Linked DNA regions of Homo sapiens. The protein of the gene in region 1 interacts with the protein of each later gene in a biochemical or structural test. Each region holds a gene or a part of one and is shown on either strand. Other genes may lie near its edges.

Region 1 (3,802 bases):
AGGGGAGGGCTCCCGGGACATGGGGTGTGCGTGGCCAGACTCCCAGCTCCTCCTGATCACAGATCGGATCTAGGGGGAGGGGGAGGGGAGGCTGTCACCGTCCCACTCCCAGCTTGCACAACGCTGCTCAGGCCACACTCAGATGCCTCAGGAGAGGGAGCACAAAAGAAAACCACCAAAGAACCAAGCGGAGGTGGGTGGAGGCACGGGGAGGGGGCAGATTGGACCGGTGGAGGTGGGTAGAGGCAAGGGGAGGGGGCAGATCGGACTGGCTCCAGAAGCACAGGCTGCGAGCGAGACCTCTGACCCAGCATTCACCTCTAAGTTGGCCACTGACCTTGGGCAAGACACTTAATTGCCATGGGCCTCAGCTTCCCCTTCCTTAAAATGGAACCACAAGATTTTCTTGGCTTACCGCACAGGGTTTGCACAAGAATTATTCCAGAGGATGTAAGTGCATGCCCTTGACAAGGCATACGGCTTTTTCTTTTTTCTTTTTTTTAATTTATAATAGAAAAAGTGTTTCCTTCCAGGAACTTTTTTTTGGGGGGGGACAGAGTCTCGCTCTGTCGCCCAGGCTGGAATGCAGTGGCGCGATCTGGTCTCACTGCAACCTCCGCCTCCTGGGTTCAAGAGATTCTCCTGCCTCAGCCTCCTGAGTAGCTGGGATTAAAGGCATGCACCACCACGCCTGGCTAATTTTTGTTGTTGTTGTTTTTTGTTTTTTTTTTTAGTAGAGATGGGGTTTCATCATGTTGGTTCGGCTGGTCTCAAACTCCTGACCTCGTGATCTGCCTGCCTCGGCCTCCCAAAGTGCTGGGAATACAGGTGTGAGCCACCGTGCTCAGCTAGCCAGGAACTTTTTTAACTAGTTTTTTTTTTCTTATTTATATTATTATGCTAATATTATATTATGCTATTATACTTGTTGGTAGTGTTTTGGGGGTTTTTGGTTGTTTCGTTTTGTTTTCCAAAGAGGCATAAAGCTTGGGGGATTTTTTTTTTTTTTTTTTTTTGAGACAGTGTCTTGATCTGTTGCTCAGGCTGAATGCAGTGGTGCGATCACAACTCACTGCAGCCTCAAACTCCTGGGCTAAAGCCATCCTCCTGCTTTAGCCTCCCCAGCAGCTGGGACTATAGGCATGTGCAACCACGCCCAGCTAATCTTTAATTTTTTGTAGAGACAGGGTTTCACTGTGTTGCCTAGGCTGGTCTCAAACTCCTGGGCTCAAGCGATCCTCTTGCCTCAGCCTCCCAAAGTGCTAGGATTACAGGTATAAGCTACTGTGCCAGGGTGAGGCATAAAGTTTTTTGTTGTTGTTGTTGTTTTGTTTTTGTTTTTTGAGACCAAGTTTCACTCTTGTTGCCCAGGCTGGAGTGCAATGGTATGATCTTGGCTCACCGCAACCTCTGCGTCCTGGGTTCAAGTGATTCTCCTGCCTCAGCCTCCTGAGTAGCTGGGATTACAGGCATGCGCCACCATGCCCAGCTAATCTTTTTGTATCTTTAGTAGAGATGGGGTTTCTCCATGTTGGTCAGGCTGGCCTCGAACTCCCAACCTCAGGTGATCCGCCCGCCTCGGCCTCCCAAAGTGCTGGGATTACAGGCGTGAGCCACCACACCTGGCCCGGCATAAAGTTTTAATTTAAGCAAAAAGCAAGTAATAAAAGTACTGTCAGCCACGGCCTATTGAGGGACCACATGCTGTGTTCTAAACACTTTCCAGGAATTATCTCATTTAGGTCTCCGGACAATCTTGATGGAAATTCTCCCCACTTTACAGATGAGAAAACTGAGGCTGAGGGAGGGGGTTGCCCAAGGTCACAGAGGTAGCAAGTGTTAGACATGTGGTTTGTATCTAGGTCTATCTGGTTCCAAAGTCCATGCTGCTAACCATTTCACCACATCAGAATGTCAAGGACAGCTCATCTGAAAGGAAAAAGCCTCAACAAGGCAAGAGGTGGGTTGACGCTATGAGAAATGCTGGGTCCACAGAGCCCACTGCCAAGTGCTGACTGTCAGGTCCGGCCACAGTGTCTCAGCATTTTCTGCCCAAGCAGACATGCGCAGAGTGGGAGGCTGCATGCAGTTAGCGAGGAGCGGCCCACACTCAGACCCGCCAATGGCCATGCCCAGCAGCCATGCGAGCTGGTGCCTGCCTGGCCAGAGGTGGAAATCCTCTCCGTGGTGCTGGGTGTGCCCATGGCCATGGCACATGGAAGCTCTGGCTGTTCCTTCCCGTCCTGGGTGGCAGCTTCCGTGGTGCCCTCTGGGCTCCTTGGGGTTTCAGGTCCCTGGGTTGGCCTGGCCACACTTCCCCTCTCGGTCATCTTTGCACCTAGCTGCTCCGTGGTAACTGAGGCAGGGGAGCTGCTTCCCAGCCTCCCTGGCTCTGGCCTTGGCCTCTCCTGCTGTAGGCCATGTTCCTCCGTGAGAGTCCAGGTATCTGGGAAGATGGCCTGCCGGTCCACTGCCACTACAGCTGGCTCTGTTACTTCTTGGAAGCTTCGAGCAGCTCCAGAGGGGGGCATTCTCTCAGGCCCGAATACCTCCGAAGCCCATGGCTGCTCCCATGTGGCAGCCAAGGCCTCCTCTGGGCACGAAGGGCTGGCTGGTGGCCCCTGGGGCTCCCCAGGCTCTTGGAGAGCTGTGCTCCCAGCACAGGGTACAGTGTGGCAGCGGGGAGCCCCAGAGAGCTCACTTGTGATGGTCGGCAGGTGCCTCCAATCTCGACCCTGACTCTCTGTGCCCACTGCCCACAGAGAACCCTCCACAGAGGGAGACCTTGAGTTGAAGGTGTCAGGCATCACCCCAAGACCAGCCAAATCAAGCCAGCTGGGGGCTACAGGAGGTAGAAGGCCTCGTCCACTCTGCTCAGTACAAGGGAACTCCGGAGTGTGGCCCTGGCCTCGAGGGGAGGGTATAGTGGTGGGTGGCAGAAATACAGATGGCATGGGAGGAGGAGAAGGAGGAAGGGAGCAGTATGAGGACGGAGCAGAGCTGGACAGCCCCGGGGCACTCAGAGCCACAGTGGAGGAGCTGGTCTGGAGAAGAGAGAAATGCAGAGGGGAGAGGAGAGAGAGAGATGAGGGGAGTGAGGACGGCTGCACCTTGCAGGCGGTGGGCTCGGCCTTAGGGCTGACCAAGGTGGCTGCAAAGCTGACGCACAGGACTGACCCTTGAAGGAGACCCAGACCCCAAAAAAGCTTCCCTGGGCTTTGCGTGCTTAGCCCTCACCAAACCCAAGCAAGAGAAAGCAGCCACCAAGCCGTGCCTGTGGAGCCACCCAGGGAGGGTATGAGAAAGAAAAGACCACGGTAAGGTGGACAAATGGGGAGCCAGGTGGCTACGGAAGACAGCCCCAGGCACAAATGGAGGGAGAGCCAGCCCCAGGGGCTGCTGAACCCGCCTCGGACACTGGCCCAACTCGGCCATGTCCCTCCGGACAATCCCAGCTTTCCTACACCCCAAGTCCTCTACGTCTTCCACATCCTTGCTCCAGGGATCTGACTAAAACCACTGCTGCTTCTCCTGGCATCAGGACACAGGCTGTCTGAGAAAACGGCAGCCTTAAAAGCACCGGGGCACAGCTCCCTCAGGCCAGGCCCTGAATCCAACTTACTTGCTTCTGACCATGGCTGCTCAGAACCACTGGCCTGGAGCTGGAACTATAGCACGCAAGGGTCACAGGGCCAGGCTCAACCCTCCACCCCAGCCACACTCCTGTCTCCCACCATGAAACCTCAGCTGAAGGGAGGCTAGGAGACACCATCAGGGCCAAGGGTGCAGGGACCGTTCACTC
Region 2 (3,500 bases), 7.7 Mb from region 1:
TCACTTGAGCCCAGGAGTTCAAGGCCAGCCGGGGCAACACGGCGAAGCTCCATCTCTACAAAAAATACAAAACTTAGCCAGGCATGGTGGTGCACACCTGTGGTCTCCAGCTACTCGAGAGGCTGAGGTGGGAGGATCACCTGAGCCCAAGGAGGTCAAGGCTGCCGTGAGCCATAATTGCACCACTGCACTCCAACCTGGGCAACAAAGTGAGACCCTGTCTCAAAAAAAGAGAAAAAAGATACATTATAGCCAAATGCACTGTGTGACCCTGGACCCATAAAAGATACTAGCAGGACAAAATTTGAAGATGGTCTGTAGGTTAGATAATAGTGTTATATCAATGTTAGTTTCCTGATTTTGATCACTGTATCAAATAATTGTGACATTGGTTATGTAAGAGAATGCCCTTATTTTTAGAAAATATACACATTTTAGAATGTGTAGGCTTAGATTATTCATTTTTTAAAATGAAATGATATTTAGAGACAAAGGGGTATAAATGTTTGTAACCAACAAACATTTTACTTTTTAAAATTTACATTTTTAATTTTAAACAGAGAGAATAAACGAATGATAAAGTTAAGTGTGCTAAAAAGTTAACAGTCAGGAAAGCTGGGTAAAGAAAATTCCACAGACTGCTTTTGCAAATTTGAGGGTTTTTTTTTTTTTTTCACTACTGTAGTTGGAAGTTAACAAAAAAGTCTACCTCCAAGGAACTGGCAGAGTGTGAGAACTGTTTATAAAAACTTGAGAATTTTCTCAATCTTGCTTCGTTTGCACTTTCCCCTGGATTCCCACATCTGATTTTATATTCTTCCTTCCTTGTGCTGTTTCTTCTCTTCCTTCTCCACAGCTCTTCACCCATCATTCCTTTTTTTCACTGATCCTTCTTTAGCAAATTCTTTCACTCCCAAAGGTCCTGAACACTTCATAATTTTAGAAATGACTGTATTTTAGAATAACCAATTATCCTGAATGAGTTTTGTTCTTTTGCTTCATTTATAAATCAGCTGGGTTTAATGTTATGTCTGCCATTTAAACTTTCTACTAAATTAAGTACTTCTTACTTTACCACAATCAGCCAGCAAGCCAGTTCCCAGATTGATTCAAACCACACAACGCAGAAAACTATATATTGCAGGATTTCATTTTTTAAAATAAATAATTGAAGCCTACACATTTTTAAAACCCAGAGGTCACTGGGCTCAGTGGCTCACACTTGTAATCCCAGCACTTTGGAAACCCAAAGTGGGAGGGTTGTTTGAGCCCAGGAGTTCAAGACTAGCCTGGGCAACACAGTGAGACCTTGTCTCTACAAAATAAAGATAAAAAAATTAGCCGGGCATGGAGCCACAAATTTGTAGTCCTAACTACTCAGAGAGGCTGAGGCAGAAGCACTGCTTGAGCCTAGGAATTCGAGACTAGCCTGGGCAACATGGCGAAACTGTGACACTACAAAAAATGCGAAAATTAGCTAGGTGTGGTGGCGCATGCCTATAGTCCCAGCTACTTGGGAGGCTGAGGTGGGAGGATCGCTTAAGCCTGGGAGATTGAGGCTGCAGTGAGCCATGATTACACCACTGCACTCCAGCCTGGGCAACAGAGAGAGACCTCTCTCTCAAAAAAAAAAAAAAAAAAAGACATCCCTGAACATGCTCCAACTTGTAGCAACTATGTTACATTCTCTTTGTATTTACTAGGAGATCCTTCTCTTTGGGCAACTTTTTGCCTAACTATTCTTGAGCCAAATTAAGTATAATGGAAGACAGATATAAAATAAAGTAACCGTCTAAATATTTCATATCAGTTAATACAAATTCAGATTTAAAGCACTGAGGTTCAAATTTTGACCTTACATTTCTATACATACACTGTTTCTGAAGATGTCTATGTACAATAAAACAATCCCGTATGTCTGTGCGGACTGAAAACCTACTAAACTAATTAGCAAGTACCTTCCTTTGGCCAACCAAACTTTGATAACGTGGCTGCTGTTCTGCTAGGCTAGAAATCTTTCAAATACTGGTGGCAGGTCCCATTCTGAAAAGAGCTCAGCATTTGGAGAAGCTGAGTTCTCTGGAAGGCAACGAGCAGAGTAATGCAGGCACTCGCCACTGATGTTTAGACACCACCCCATCTGCAGCATGGCAATGGGGTTGAGGGGTTGGGGAGAGAAGCACAGCCCCCAAAAGAGCAGCTCTCCTCATTTCCTTCATCTCAGCATATTCCTAATTAACTCAGCTTTGTGCCTGTTATGAATAGCTTCAGATGGAAAGGCTCCAATTCCACATTCCTCTTCATTATGCACAGCTTATTAAAATTGAAATTTCACTGTTTCCAACTCGACCAAATTAGTGGTTCAAACTGCCGTGCGCTATTAAGAGTGAGGCATTCGTTTTAAAGGATGGAATCAGGATAAACATGGCCTGGATCAAGGCTGGAACAGGCTAGAAACTTCAAGGCTTTGAGTTTTACGCTTGCCACATGAGCCTGAGAACATCAGAACCTTTCTGCATGGCAGTTCTTCAATCTGGCAGGCCAGGCTGATAGGATGGTGCCCTTCCCTAAGCTCCTCTGCAGTGAAAAATCAGAGCTGAGAAGTGGAGAATAATTGACAGTTTCCAGAGGCCCTTTTAGTTGGGAGTTTGTTTCCCATTCCGAAATCAAACAGTTGTCTATCAGAGCCTGTCCTCCTGCTCAAAAGGAGAGCGTATCCAAGAGGCCTAGCAAGAGAATGAGAATCCGCATGCCAGCCCTCAGGCTGGTACCTGCTCTTCTTCAATCCTGCGCTGTAGTGTTTCAATATAATGCTGGACCGCCATATAGATAAATCGGTACTGTGCTTCTGTCTGGACCATCCCTGACCTCTGAGACCGCACCATCTGGATGGTTTTGGGAACGTCAATATCGCAGTCAACACCTACGAAGGAAACATCATGAAGAATAAAGAGAAACTGCAGAGCCAGGATGAAGTTGTTTAATGCACAACTTTTAGTGGACTCAGAGACAATGCTAATTTAGTCTTTGCTGTTTTAACTGAGCATGTTGCAATGGCTACAGTGTTGAACTTCTGACCAATACCAATGATCCCAGAAGACTACATAAATAACGAAGTGGCAGAAGTCAGGATTCCCTCACTTGCCAACAAATCACCCCATACTGTAAACAAGGTCAGGTGGCTGGATAGAGACCACCACTGTGTATGCAACAAAAGGCCATGGCAGTGGGTTCTGCAGCTCCTAGACTTCATTTTATGCCAAAAGCTCAAATAGTGTCACTTCTGTTCTCAGGCAGACACACTGAAGTCTTCAGCCCAGATTTTTGTGAAAGAATTTTCCCATTCAACCTCTCTTCCCCAGACTGTTTTCGTGAGCACTTTCCTTCCATAAACTAAAAACAGAAACTGTCGCTTCTTGCCCACCAGATGACCCACCTTTCTCTCTGATGATGTCAATAAGAATATCAATCACAATGAACGTCCCTGTCCGGCCAATTCC
Region 3 (3,500 bases), on another chromosome or scaffold:
CCTCCAGTATTGTGAGATAATAAATCTGTGTTTGAGTCACACAGTCTAAAGCAGCTTGTTATCGCAGCCTGAGAAAACGGGTTGATTGCATTCATGGATTCTTCAATCTATTTTGAGCCTGTCCCTCAGCCTGGGTCCAGAATGTCCCTCAGGGCTAGGTCAGTGATGCTACATGTAGCAGTGTCCCCAGCTTTGACCTGACCAATCCTTTGTTTGTTCCCCCATCTCTCTTAGCTCTGGGAATATTGGCTTGTCCTGCAGCAAATGTGCTCCATTATGTTGGCACAAGGATGCAAGGCTGATTCAAACTTGTATTTATTCAAACCTGCATTCCAACAAGTTCTCAGCCTTGAGATCATTAATATGGACAGAAGTCCCTGGACTAATGGAATTTATATTTTGGGAGCAGAGATAGATAATAAATAAACAAGAAAATGACATAGCACATAAGATGTGCTACACTGCAGAGGAGAATGAGAAGAGAAGAAAAAGTGCTTCTATTTTCAGTAGAATAGTCAAAGACAGCCTCGCAGAGAAGACCTTTAAGCAGAGAATTTAGGAAGGTACAGGGAATAATGCAGGTGGATACTGAAGGGGAGAGAGTTCTAGGCCAGAAGAAAAGCAAGTGCAAAAATCCAGAGATGACAGTGTTCTTGCAAAACAGCAAGGAGATCACTGTACTGGGGCAGAATAAGCAAGGGTTGGGAGAAGCGGAATCTTCGGAAGCAGGAGAGGCTGGATTATGTGGGGCATGGAAGCCACCATGAGTTTGTTGCTCTGATTATGAAAGTGATAAGAAGACGATGTTGACAAGAGTGATATGATGCGAGTTACGTTTTAGCTGAATCCCTTGTCTGCTAAAATCAGAATAACAGATGCAGGGTGACCTGTCAGAATGCCACCATGACAATCCAGACACCAGGTGATGGTGGCTTGAGCCAAGGAAGAAGCCGTGAAGCTGGCCTGAAGTGGTCAGGGAGTGGCCAAGCTGGGAAGGCAGAGCTCACAGGATGTGCTGACACATTGGACATGATTATAAGGAAAAAGAGACAGTGACGACAGAACCAGAAATGTTTTGGCCCGAGCAACTTGGAGGAAGTGACCATCGACTGAAATGGGGAAGAATCAGGTTTCGGGTAGAAGAGAGTAGCAAGGGTGTGGATCTAGATGTGACGTTTGAGAGGTTTATTAAACCTTCAAGAAGAAAGATCAGCCAAGCACGGAGACACAGAATTTATGGACATATAATCTGGAGGCCACAGCACACATATCATGAAGCCAGAAGACCAGATAATTTAAATGAGGGAGAAAGTGTAGGGAAGAAAAATTAGCCCAGCGACTAAGCTCTGAGGATTCAACACATAAGGGTCAGGATGATGAAGAAGAGGCCAGAAAGGAGACTGAGTAGAAGGATCTGATGAAATAGGAGAAAACCCAGGAGAGCATGTTGGCCTTAAAGCCAAGCAGTGAAAACGTCTTCAGGGAAAAGTGCAATCATCACGGCTGACAGAACCGTGGGACTCGCCAGGAAGCTCTTGCTAGAGAGGAGACGACTACCTCAGTAGTATCACAGAGGTGGGCTGGCAATATCCTGACACACTGTCGAATTTCGTGTAATTTCCCATCTTGCTATTCCTGGAGCACTCTTTTCCCATTTAGAAATCCTCAGAAACCGCCAGGCACGGAGGCTCACACCTGTAATCCCAGCACTTGGGGAGGCCGAGGCAGGCAGATCACGAGGTCAGGAGATGGAGACCATCCTGGCTAACACAGTGAAACCCCAACTCTACTAAAAATACAAAAAATTAGCCGGGTGTGGTGGCAGGCGCCTGTGGTCCCAGCTACTTGGGAGGCCGAGGCAGGAGAATGGCGTGAACCCGGGAGGCGGAGCTTGCAGTGAGCCGAGATCATGCCACTGCACTCCAGCCTGGGCGACAGAGCAAGACTCTGTCTCAAGGAAAAAAAAAATAAATCCTCAGAAACAAAACAACAAGATCCCCACTATGTAAAGACCCTTCCAATTTGGATGACCCATAGACGAGTTCTACGAAGTTCGGTTCCTTGTGTAGAACAGAATCCTCCTTGGCCATGATCGCATGAGGGCTTGTGTTTCTTTGGGGAATGTGGGTGAAATCCAGCTTAGCCTTGGTGATTCTAACCATCTCAGTGAAGTGGAATGTGTAGTTTAACCCCATATTCTCTATTTTAAAATATCCACCACAACTGACCCAGGCCCAACCTAATCTTGAGTGGCTGCAAATGAAGCGAGAGCCATCCTGGATTTTGATAACAGTCAACGTTTCCTGAGAACTCAGAGTCCCACCACGGGCATCTCTGCAGAGCACACTCACCCCAGGTTCTGCAGGAGGCAGCTCTGCTGTTTCAGCACTTCACAGAACATCATGACCCCCAGGTCGCCCAGGTCATTGTTGCCCAGGCTCAGCTTTCGCAGGCTCTGGCTGGAGGTCAGAAGTGTGGAAAGATCCCAGCAGCAGTGTGACGTGAGGTTGCAGTTGTCTAATCTGCAAAAAGGGGGTGATTTAAAGAAAATGTCCCCTTAACCATCCCCCTAGCTCCCCAAGATTTTAGCATCTTAGCCTGTCTTGTTTCAGGTGGAAAAAAAAAAAGCACAGGAGCACAGGACTAACTAGCTTCAAGCAGCCTTGTATGCTGGTAATTATTCTTCTCTCTCTTTTTCAAATCCACTGCATTGCACAGATCAAATTAGTAACAGTGGTTTGTTCATTGATTTACCAAATTCTGTGCCTTTCCCTACATTTCCATAAAATGTAAGTGTCATACTGCCCTCCTTGTTTTGTGGTACAGAAAACTGTGATGGTAAGGACTCAAGTTCCTACATCTATATCATCTGGAAGGACTCCTCCCAGTCCCATGATCCTGTAACAAGGCAAACACTAAGAAGACACCTCACTTCTAAGATACAGATTATCTTGTGGCCACTCTGCCTAAACGTCCCTCCACCCTTGGCCACCATGTGTTCTCATTGCTGTAATAAACCAAAGGACTTACTCCAACACCTGAAGCTTGCAGTCGGGGTGCAAGAGTCCCTCACAGAGTAGTTTGATCCCCTTGTCTCCGAGAGTGTTGCCTCGCAGGTAAAGGTGCGTGAGATTCTGATTAGTGCTGAGTACCGAGGACAAAGCTGAACAACAGACTGACGTAAGGCCAGAATTCACCAACCTGTAGAAGGACAGGGAGAAGAGTCCTCAGTACCCAGCTGTTCCCCAACATTGTGCAGCTGCTTTGACTCAGTGCCTCGTCCTCTCTCAGCAGCTGCAGCCTTCAGCTCAGAGAGCAGGAGCCAGCATCTCAGATATGATCTGGGGAGAGCAAGACCTGCTGTCTCTGGCTGTCACAGGAGACACAAATGATGTCTCAGCAGATGCTTTGCTGTATGAGTCCGACAGAAAGAGCCAAGGCAAACTGAGCCAGTTACCCCATACTCCTCCTCCTCCTCACACAGCTTTCCTCCGGCCAGG
Region 4 (3,500 bases), on another chromosome or scaffold:
AAAAGTTAGAAGAAAGGAAGCTCTTCTTCCAATCAAATGTCTGCTCCATGCAAAGGTAAGTCAAAGCAGACTGACGGCTATCTACTCATTTTTTGAGCCACAGGGGAGGGGATATGCATGAGGAGGAGCTGATAAGAGAGGAGAAGACTGAAGACTTCCTATTCTTTTTCCCTCTAAATGCAGGAACATATGTAAGGCTTTGAAATTACAGAATTCTTGGCCCTAGCTCCTAATCCCTCATAGACCTGGCAAAAGGGTACTAATGATGGGGATAAAGGGTAGGGAGAAAGAAGTGAACAATAAACCCTGTTCTTGTAAATCAAACCAGCTTTACTTCTCCAACGGTTCATTTGCACTACTAAATCCCCAGAACAGCTTTAACTATGAAATGTCTTTTTTTTGAATCACAGGGGATTAAGCAGACAGTAAGAGCAGGTGGATTACAAGCTTCAACTTTCATACAGAAAAAAAGACAAGCTTGGACAAGAAAGCAAGACCCCATCTTTACAAAAAATAATAAAAAAAAAATTAGCTGGGCATGATGGCATACACCTTAGTTCTAGCTACTTGGTAGGCTGAGGTGGGAGGACCACTTGAGCCCAGGAGATTGAGGCTGCAGTCATCTGTGATCATGCACGACACTCCAGCCTGTGCTACAGAGTGAGAGCTTGTCTCAAAAAGAAAAAGAAAAAAGAAAAGAAAAGGAGACAATCTGGACATTGAGAAAAATTTGACAAAGATGCCAATGGCAAAAAATTCAAAGGCATCAATGCTTTTCTAAATATTATTATTTTCTCCTTTTCTTGTTCACACATCCTTTTTTTATTCCATATTTAGATGCAGAAATGAAAAAGTATTGTATGCCATCTCTCTATTTAGTATATTTGCCTTTCCAGACACCTAATATAAAAAGAAAAGGTATAATTAGGATTTAATGTGATTTCAGTGGATGTGATTAATGGCCAGGCAAGACTCCGATCACAGCAAGGATGAGAGCTTTTCACAGGCAAGAGTGACCACAGCAAGGACGAGAGCCTGCCTTTAGACTATTCCGCTTTGCAGCACCAAAAAGAGTAAAGTAACTGGTGAAGACTACTCGTAGAAACAGAATGTGGGCTTAACAGGAACAATAACTTAGAAAGCCTGTTATAGTCAGAAAGAAATGAACCGTGGCTTCTAATTTCTCCTTGATATGGTTTCATAGGAGAAAGGGCAAAAGCTAGAAATGAAGGCAGTAAACTGTTTAAAAAGATTATAAACCATGATAGCTTTCTTGCTTCTTTCCAACATAATCAAAGTAAAGTGGCCAAAGTCATAATTTAAAACTTTCTTTCCTTGGGAGGCCAAGGTGGGCGGATCATGAGGTCAGGAGTTTGAGACCAGCCTGGCCAATGTGGTGAAATCTCATCTCTACTAAAAATACAAAAAAGGCCCGGCACGGTGGCTTACGCCTGTAATCCCAGTACTTTGGGGGGCCGAGGCAGGTGGATCACCTGAGGTCAGGAGTTCAATACCAATCTGACCAACATGGTGAAACCCCATCTCTACTAAATACAAAAAATTAGCCGTGCATGGTGGTGCATGCCTGTAGTCCCAGCTACTTGGGAGGCAAAGGCAGGAGAATCGCTTGAACCTGGGAAGCAGAGGTTGCAGTGAGCCGAGATTGTGCCATTGCACTCCAGCCTGGGCAACAAGAGCGAAACTCTGTCTCAAAAACAAAAACAACAACAAACAAACAAAATAAGCGGGGTGTGGTAGAGCACGCTCCTGTATTCCAAGTTACTCAAGAGTCTGAGGCAGGAGAATTGCTTGAACCTGGGAGGCGGAGGTTGCAGTGAGCTGAGATCATGCCACTGCACTCCAGCCTGGGCGACAGAGTGAGACTCTGTCTAAAAAAAAAAAAACCAAAAACTAAAACAGAAAACTTTCTTTCCATATTGTTCTGTCTATGGGCTATATAACACCCTGCAATTTAAGATTTTAGAATGGGGCAAGATTGTTCTTTCATTATGATGGATGTGTTAACATAATACCATCCATCCCCTCTCTAGTTACTTATAATAGTCCTTATTGATTAATGGCCAACAAATTAATTGTAAATTATTGAAACATTAAATGTCAGAAATAAAAATTTCCCAAATTAACATGATTTTTGTAGGATTTGGCATTCTGTGATTTAAAAAATTCATTTCTAATTATATTCAAAATAGATAAGGCATGATTTTCTTTTCTGAAAATAATTAAGATGAAATTTATAACTTGCAATATTTACTACATGAATATAATAATTGACAATCAAGCTCCAAATCTACAATAAAGCTATAAAAATGACAGTTCTTAAGAATCTCTATAGGGAAAACCTAAAATCATTTTCCAAAAAAATGTGTTTCAATAAAAGTTTCCACTTTTCCTTTTTAGGTTATTTTAATTTCCTCGAAAAGAAAACTAGCCAGTGTTCAGTTGCATTATGTAGCTTTCCACAACACTCTACACTAACAAAGAGGGCAGTCTCTTACGTCCATAAGAGCAGCATTGATGTAGTTACTGCTCTCCCCATCAATTGTAATTAAAAAAGGCAGACATCTGTCAGGTGGCAGCATGTCCATGAAACGGTTCTTGTCATGGTTCCTTGGCAGGCACGCTATACTGCAGTCTTCAGCTTGTAGTCGAGGGGTGACTGAATTCAGAGTCTAAAAAGAAAAGAGAACCCAGGTTAAAAGACAGTGTGACCCATTTAACAGTATAACACAGATCCATCAGGAATTTAGAAGGCCAAGTAGAAAGTGAAGGATTTGTGCGAGGCAATGGCATTTGCTACTATGACAGGCTGATAGACCTTGTAGTTAAAGCTAATGAAGCCTGAGAAGTGACAAAGAAACAAGACACACATTGTTCAGGGCTCCTCTTCTTAAAAGGAAAAGGTACGCTAAACAACACTGCTACCTGCAAAATGCATTGCCTTAACCAAAGAAAATGCAATCGGGCAGTCCATTATGATAATGACCCTTCATCACACTGGGAAACGGTATCATTTGTAGTAACATCTGGGCTTGCCATATTTGAAGATAAGCTATGGCATGTTGGAAAGAGCACTGGATCAACAATCAAAGAATTTGGTCTCTGCCCTTGATTTTATTTTCACCCACCTTCAGGGGTGTTTTAAGGGCAGTGAAAACATTTAGGGCTATTTTGAAATAACATGTACTACAAACTTCATTTATTATTATTATTACTATTATTATTTTTGAGACAGGGTCTTACTCTGTTGCCCAGGTTGGAGTGCAGTGGCAATATCTTGGCTCACCACAGCCTTCCAGGGTTAAGCAAACTTCCAGGGTCAAGCAATCCTCCCATCTCAACCTCCTGAGTAGCTGGGACTACAGGCATGCACCACCACACCCGGCTATTTTTTATATTTTTTGTAGAGATGAGGTTTTGCCATGTTGGCCAGGCTGGTCTTGAACTGCTGACCTCAAGATCTGCCTGCCTTGGCATCCCAA

The links. The genes of interacting proteins can lie anywhere in the genome.
Region 2: of the proteins of PXN (region 1) and PTPN11, one has a biochemical effect on the other in vitro, tested with the Homo sapiens proteins (one study listed by IntAct).
Region 3: the proteins of PXN (region 1) and NLRP3 form a complex in vitro, tested with the Homo sapiens proteins (one study listed by BioGRID).
Region 4: of the proteins of PXN (region 1) and PTPRK, one has a biochemical effect on the other in vitro, tested with the Homo sapiens proteins (one large-scale study listed by IntAct).

What each region holds. Positions count from the first base shown.
Region 1 is NC_000012.12:120,217,048-120,220,849, forward strand, and holds part of PXN (paxillin), read right to left. Parts: exon of another isoform or gene 3,045-3,802; coding exon 2,160-3,044; intron 70-2,159; coding exon 1-69. UniProt on the Homo sapiens protein: Cytoskeletal protein involved in actin-membrane attachment at sites of cell adhesion to the extracellular matrix (focal adhesion). Recruits other proteins such as TRIM15 to focal adhesion.
Region 2 is NC_000012.12:112,488,447-112,491,946, reverse strand, and holds part of PTPN11 (tyrosine-protein phosphatase non-receptor type 11), read right to left. Parts: coding exon 3,437-3,500; intron 2,924-3,436; coding exon 2,772-2,923; intron 2,764-2,771; exon of another isoform or gene 1,959-2,763; intron 930-1,958; exon of another isoform or gene 523-929; intron 1-522. UniProt on the Homo sapiens protein: Acts downstream of various receptor and cytoplasmic protein tyrosine kinases to participate in the signal transduction from the cell surface to the nucleus. Positively regulates MAPK signal transduction pathway. Dephosphorylates GAB1, ARHGAP35 and EGFR.
Region 3 is NC_000001.11:247,443,673-247,447,172, reverse strand, and holds part of NLRP3 (NACHT, LRR and PYD domains-containing protein 3), read right to left. Parts: intron 3,202-3,500; coding exon 3,031-3,201; intron 2,523-3,030; coding exon 2,352-2,522; intron 1-2,351. UniProt on the Homo sapiens protein: Sensor component of the NLRP3 inflammasome, which mediates inflammasome activation in response to defects in membrane integrity, leading to secretion of inflammatory cytokines IL1B and IL18 and pyroptosis.
Region 4 is NC_000006.12:127,978,600-127,982,099, forward strand, and holds part of PTPRK (receptor-type tyrosine-protein phosphatase kappa isoform b precursor), read right to left. Parts: intron 2,691-3,500; coding exon 2,517-2,690; intron 1-2,516. UniProt on the Homo sapiens protein: Regulation of processes involving cell contact and adhesion such as growth control, tumor invasion, and metastasis. Negative regulator of EGFR signaling pathway. Forms complexes with beta-catenin and gamma-catenin/plakoglobin.